Linked DNA regions of Homo sapiens. The protein of the gene in region 2 interacts with the protein of the main gene of each other region in a pairwise test. Each region holds a gene or a part of one and is shown on either strand. Other genes may lie near its edges. The genes, in order: CALU and ZPBP.

Region 1 (3,850 bases), about 79 Mb from region 2:
AGCGAGACCCTTCCTCAAAAAAAAGAATGTAAAAAAAAAAAAAGAACGAGATGCATCTATCTGCAGTGAAATGGAAAATTCACCAAGATATGTCAAGTGAACAAAAAAAGCAAGGTTCAAAACAACGTCAAGATCTCATTTACATAAAAAGCAAAACAAAATTAAACAATCTCCCCAGCTTGTTTTTATTTGTATAAAATATAACATGCACATAAATGGTGTGCAAAGACAAATACCCATGTGTAAACAGTGGTAACCTCAAGGTTCATGGGAGAAGAGACAGGAATGGGGTGGGCTGGTAAGATTGGTGTGAAAGTGAACTTTAATACTGTATCCTGCTGTACTGTCTAATTTGTATGAACAGCACACTCTCATGTTTATTAGCTTTCTGTGTGCACCACTTGTAAAATATTGCTCTGGGTGAACAACACTCTGGCTGACCCTCCAATAATTCAACTGATCAATCAAATCAGTTAAAGAGTAAACAGAAAATCCGAGATTTAGCGGCTCTATAAATACAACATTAAAGTGAGTATGCCTTTACTTCAGGGCAAAATGAAACTTCTATCTCAAACTATAAACAATTCTTTTTTTGAGACAGGGTCTTACTCTGTCACCCAGGCTAGATATAGTGGTGTGATGATAGCTCACTGCAGTCTGGTCCTCTGGGGCTCAGACCATCCTCCCACTTCAGCCTCCCAAGTAGCTGGGAATACAAGTGTGTACCACCATGCACAGCAAATTAAAAAAAAAAAAATGTTGTAGAGTCTCACTATGTTGCCCAGACTGGTCTCAAGCGATCCTCCAGCCCTGGCCTCCCAAAGTGCTGGGATTACAGTCGTAAGCCACCATACCCAGCCTATAAACAAATAATTCTTTAGATAAACAAAACTTTGGAAACAAAAAACAGAATTATATGTTGTTGATGTTTTGGGATATATCCCAACAATATGTATAGTGACAGAGGCTTGCAGAATCAAGTAAAATCAAGAGTCACTGCAACAAAGGATTTTCCTTATGCCTAAGGGGACTTTATCTTTAGGAAAATTTTACAAATGATTACATTCTCAAAATAAAATATAGCATAATACCCTAACAATTCTTGCCAACCCCAAATATTACAATATGAATAAATACTTATGCACTCTAACATAATCTGGTCCTGGAAAGGATACTGTACCAAGTTTTGAGACATGTAGCATACAGAAATGTAATAGATTGGTTTACTCTGTGATTTAGAGGGAAAACTACATTTATGTTTCAGGCTTAATATCTTGATACAAGGATACCAGAATTCCAAAGAGTAGAAGCCAAGTGATTTAGCTTTATCACTCACCCATTTCTCCTTCCTTCCCCTCTCCTGAATAAACTTTCAATCTCATCCCTTAAACAGGCTCCTCCATTCTGTCAATCAGTGCTTCTCAGGTCTCCACTACCCACAGTCTTTCCCAGACTGTGCTGTTCCTTCATGCTTGCTCCTCCCTTTCCCTCACCCACAGTTTCTACCCTGCTGCCTCTGCTTCCTCACTGTCCAATGCTACCCTGAAACCTGGCTTCCTTACTATTGATGAAACTGCCTACAACGGTCATCAAGGACCCAGATGGACAAAGCCAATGGTCCATCTTTACTTCTTTATCTTTCTGCAGGGAGGAATGAAAAATCTGCACTTTAAAGAAGTTCTACTTAAAAAAAAACAAAACGTCCTTTGTGCCCACATATATAACAACTCCTGGCTATTAGAAACTTTAACAAAGCCCTCTTGTTTTATGAATATAGACACTAAAAACAAAAAACACCATCCATACCAAAAACTGTACTAGATTTATCTAAAACCATATGGTTTTTGGTATGGAGCATGTATGTTCAAGCAGAAACAAAGGACATCTAAGACAAAGGATATCTTACGTGGGAAGATGTGAAAGGAACAGTAAAAAATAACTTCATACACAGCATTTGAAAATCTACTTTAGTGCACTTCGTTTTCTTTTGTTGAGACTGAGTCTGTCTCTGTTGCCCAGGATGGAGTGCAGTGGTGTGATCTTGGCTCACTGCAACCTCCACCTCCTGGGTTCAAGTGATTCTCCTGCCTCAGCCTCCTCAATAGCTGGGATTACAGGCATGGTCTACCACGCCCGAATAATTTTTGTATTTTTAGTAGATACAGGGTTTCACCATGTTGTCCAGGTTGGTCTCAAACTCCTGACCTCAAGTGATTCTCCCGTCTCGGCCTCCCAAAGTGTCGGGATTACAGGTGTGAGCTACCATGACCAGCCAGTACACTTCATTTCTGAAGCATCTTTGTCTTTTCAACCAAATTGAAACCAAATGATACAAAGTTAATGGCCCTTCTCATTTTCCTCACCCACTTCAACACTTTATAAAAGTTTAGACTGGGCCAGCAGCAGTGGCTCAAGCCTGTAATCCCAGCACTTTGGAGGGCCAAGGCGGATGGAATGCTGGTGTTCAAGACCAGCCTAGGCAATCCCATCTCCACCAAAAATACAAAAAATTAGCTGGGTGTGGTGGCGCAGCTATAGTCCCAGCTACCGGGGAAGCTGAAGTGGGAGGATCGCCTGAGCCCCGGAGACACGAGGTTACAGTGAGTCATGATCATGCCACCACACTCCAGCCTTGGTGAGGGAACAAGACCCTGTCTCAAAAAAAGAAAAAGAAAAAAAAAAGTTTAAATTGGATACTTTTGTCCAAAAAGTAAAAAAAAAGTTTAGAGGAATAGGTACAGATCACTTCCAGCTGGAAAGATCTTTGTGTATCCATTGGGCCATACATACTGATCACAATACTGGTCCAATGGATATACTATGGACATAATGGACAACATAATATTAGGAAAAATATGATACACATAAACAAAAGACTTAGCTGTATGAGCTTTTATCATGTGATCTAGAAAGTAAACCAATGGTTGTGAAAACTGAATTTCCCCACCTCCCATTTCTCAAATGAGTTTCTCTCTCTAAAATTCTGTCCCTCTTCCACGAAGGGTAACATCTAATATTTTTTTCTTGGGAAAAAAAAAAAATCTAGGCCTGTACTGCCCAGTACAGTAGCCACTAGCCACATGTGACTACTAAGCACTTGAAATGTGGCTAGTGTGAATTGCGATTGGTATAAGTGTTACATTTCATATTGAAAGAATGGTATTTTATATGTATTAGATTAAACATTATTAAAATTACTTTCACCTGTTTTAGATTTTCACCTGAAAATTTAAAATTACATATGTGGCTTGTATTATATTTTTATTGGACAGCATGTTAGACACAAACCAAAAGATTAGAACAGAAAATATATCCAGTAGCTATCATCCTTTTGTAGTATTAGTATGTCACCAATAATGGTCTTCTATAAAGTTGTTTTCATGAATCGTTCCAGTAATTTATAAAGAGAAAAGCCTAACTGGGTTAAGTGTGATTTTAATAATAATGAGTCTTAAGAATTGGTTTCTTCGATCCATCCAAAAATGTCCTTAAAAGCTCTAAATTCTTATCACTTCTCCCTACCCCACCCTTCAGGTAAGAACTTAGAGCTTTCAAGGAAGTTTTTGTCCTTAGTGTCCATAGTGTATCCATTGGACCAGTATTGCGAGCAATACATGGCCCAAACTTTCAATTTTGGTAAAGTGCCATTGGTCACAGAATACTTAAATTGTTTCAGGGAAATTTAGATGTTTAAATTCAACTTCACAAGAACGTTAACACTGAGTGATCCAACAGTTATTATGGTTGACCAAAGACCCATTGCTCAATGTTAACAATTGGGAGAAATGGGTGTGGTAGTAAAATTCCAGTTCTCTGAGCTGGATGGATATTCACCAGAAAAGGCATTTAT
Region 2 (3,850 bases):
TGCCATAGTTTAAAGAGAAAAAAATAGGAAGGGATCTGGGGTATTATGTCAAAGAATGCTACTTGATCTACAAGTTTGTTTGTTTTTGGTTTTTTGTTTTTTTTTTTTTGAAAAACTAGCAGAAATAACATGGGAGAAAGTTGAATATATAAGCTATACAAAAATATAATAGAAATTGAAAAGTAAAGCATTTCAGAATCTGTGTTTTCACAAACTTCTTTTAAAAACAACGTAATATTAGGCTAGTCTTTGGTTGTAGTATATTATATAATTTATAAAATTATAAGACACTGATAATTCACACATTTAATAAGTCTCTCTTTAAAGTGCCAAAACTGATTAACAAAATGTTGTACATTATAAGGAATGGTAAATGTCAAATCACAGAGAAGCTTTTCAGTATAAATTAATTTAAAAGTACTAAATAAGTTAGGAAAAAGAAAAATAATATAGGTGGAAATGTTAAGTCTTCACTAATTTATAAGGAAACAAGCTTTCTCTTCCAGAAGGAAAAGAACAAATCTGGTGCTTATTTCACCTACTACGGAGAAAGTAAACAAACTTCCCTTATGTCATAAAATGCTTTGTCTCAATCTTGTTTGTTGAATATAAACATGGTATATCATTTTATTCTGGACAGAAGTTGTTTCATGAGATACCTCATATATTTTGTGAGCTCATCATCATTTTATCTAGTAGTCAGTTTCATACTTGAATGGATTTTAAATTCATTTACTATGTTAATTTTGTCTTTTAACTAGTGTTATCCTAATTTAAAATACAGGGTAATTTGTTAAATCATTTTCTATTCAGAGAATTATTTAAGTATCTTTTTGAGTAGTTATATGCTTTTCTAAAACGTTAGGGTGATAACCTCCTGTAAAATAAACAAAAATTATTATTATCCTATGGGGTCCTGAATGTTACATTAAGGGAACTGAATCTTGCTTAATAGCTTACAGGAATGATAACACAAAGATAATTATAAATTAAAATGTTTATTAACCATAAGATGGCACAAAATGAAATTTAGCAACTCACTAATTAATAAGTCTATTGAGCAATGATGATGAGCCCATAAAATCCAAAAAATAAATTTTATTTTATTTAAGCAAAATTCCCCCCCATAAACTTGATGCTCATTCATGCTATTGCTTGGATGGTACTTGCTATCCTGGTATCCTGCAAAGTAACTTCCTCAAGACTCAAACACAAGTCTCACCGAGAAAGCCGTATCACAATTACATTGAACCCTTGTGATCTATCCTATTGCAAACTCAATTTTCTTTATATAATCTTCTTGTATTTTTCCCTTAACAGTCTCTTGTTCCCTAATTGTTTCATGGATGCATCTCCTAAGTATATAAACTCCGTGGGCAGAGATCAAATATTCAGGAGCACAAAACAGTATTTTAGAGACAGAAAATATTTTTGAGATTCATGTTAAATTATCTCATATACTTCTTATGACAAGAATAAAAACAATTACCTTGATCAAATAGTGTAGTACATAATAAGTTGAGTGTAATCATTACATGGTGAAATTAGAAAACATTACAATTGTGTTGTTACCCAAAGTTTTTAAATACAAAAAAAATTTTTAATGATAAAATTATGTGTAATTCTGACATTCAAAACTACTACTTCACTTGAAAGAGCTATGTTTGACAATTTCAAAATACTTATAATTGAGGAGATGCAAATATTTTAACAATTTTAGTTTAAGTCTTCTTTGAATAATGATATAAATACATGTAATAGCTTAACTACTATGTTCCAGTTTATTTTTTGGGTATTTCTATGTTTTTCTTTATCCTTATCTGTGTTCTGGAGTTATACATATATATATATATATATATATAAAATATATATAATATAATATAATATATTATATATTACATATTATGTATATTACATATCTGTGTTCTGGATATATATCATATATTAGATAATATATAAATATATATTAATATATTTATATTATATATTATATATTAATATAATTTTATATTATATATTATATATATTATAATATAATTTTATATTATATTATAATATATATAATATAATTTTATATTATATTATAATATATATAATATAATTTTATATTATATATAATTATAATATAATTTTATATTATAATTATATATTATATTTATATTATAATTATATATTATATTATAATTTAATTAATAAAATTAAATTGTATTATGTTATATGTTATATAATATAAAATTATATAATATAAATATATAATATAAATATATAATACATATAATATAAATATATAATATATATAATATAAATATATAATATATATAATATAAATATATAATATATAACATATATTATATAATACATAATATAAAAATTAATTTTTCAGTCTTAAAAGAGTTTAAAAAATTTATACTAATATCACTAAATTTATACCTGTCTTAGTCTGTTTCATATTGCCATAAGAGGATATTTAAGCCTGGATAGTTTATAAAGGAAAAACGTTTATTTGTCTCACGATTCTGATGGCTGAAAAGTTTGAGACTGGGCATTCGGTGAGGGCCTCGGGCTGCTTCCACCCATGGCAGAAGGTGAAAGGCAGCCTGAGTGTGCAGAACTCAAATGGTGAGAGAGGAAGCCAGAGAGGGGGGCAGGTGCCAGCCTCTTTTGTATAGCCAGCTCTCACAGGAACTAACAGAATTAGAACTCGGTCACCCCGAGGGAGAATATTAATCTATTCATGAGAGATCTGCTCCCACGACCCGAACCTCTCCCACTACGCCTTACATCCCAACATTGCCACACTTGGAACTAAATTTAAACATGAGATTTTGTGGGAACAAACAAACCATAGCCAAATCATAGCAATATCATTCTCATTAAGTCATTTCTAATTGTTCTTTTCTCCTTTCTTTCTGCAATTTAAGTTAGATTAAAAGCCTTTTCATAAAATAGACTACTGACTATTCCTTTTACTTTGTTTTCTTTGATTTGGCTAGAGTTATCTTTATAACTTTTTGTGTTTTGTTATTTAAATATATGAACTTTCACAAAAATATAGTACAAAGTTATATTAGGAAATAGAATACAAATTAAACAAAGAAATAACTGCCAACTGTTAACTTTGTAACTATTTTTAAAATTGTGATTATATATATTTTATATATATAAAATCACTGGTTTTAAATATCAGTGATTATTTCTATCATATAATGTATGTTATATATAATGTAATATATATTTATATACAAATTGTAAATATTTATATATGTTATATATAATATAGATCAGATATAATATATATTATATAATATATATTATATATAATTATATATTATATAATATATATTATAATTATATATATTATATAATATATATTATATATAATTATATATATTATATATAATTATATATATTATATATAAAATATATATAATATATAATATAAAATATATATAATATATATTATGTACATATAATAATATATATAATTATATATAATATATATTATATATAATATAAATTATATATGGTATATTATATAATATATATTATAATTTTATATAATTATATAAATTATATATTATATAATTATATAAATTATATATTATATAATTATATAAATTATATAATTATATTATATTATATTATATTATATATTATATAATATCTTGATATAAAATATATATTATATATTATATATAATAATATATATAATTATATATAATATATTATATATAATATAAATTATATATGGTATATTATATATTATATATTATAATTTTACATAATTATATGAATTATATAGATTATATAATTATATGAATTATATAGATTATATAATTATATGAATTAT

What was found.
Region 1: the proteins of ZPBP (region 2) and CALU interact in a two-hybrid assay, tested with the Homo sapiens proteins (one large-scale study listed by BioGRID and IntAct).

Annotation. Positions count from the first base shown.
Region 1 is NC_000007.14:128,742,348-128,746,197, reverse strand, and holds part of CALU (calumenin isoform a precursor), read right to left. Parts: intron 1-3,850. UniProt on the Homo sapiens protein: Involved in regulation of vitamin K-dependent carboxylation of multiple N-terminal glutamate residues. Seems to inhibit gamma-carboxylase GGCX. Binds 7 calcium ions with a low affinity.
Region 2 is NC_000007.14:49,977,986-49,981,835, forward strand, and holds part of ZPBP (zona pellucida-binding protein 1 isoform 1 precursor), read right to left. Parts: intron 1-3,850.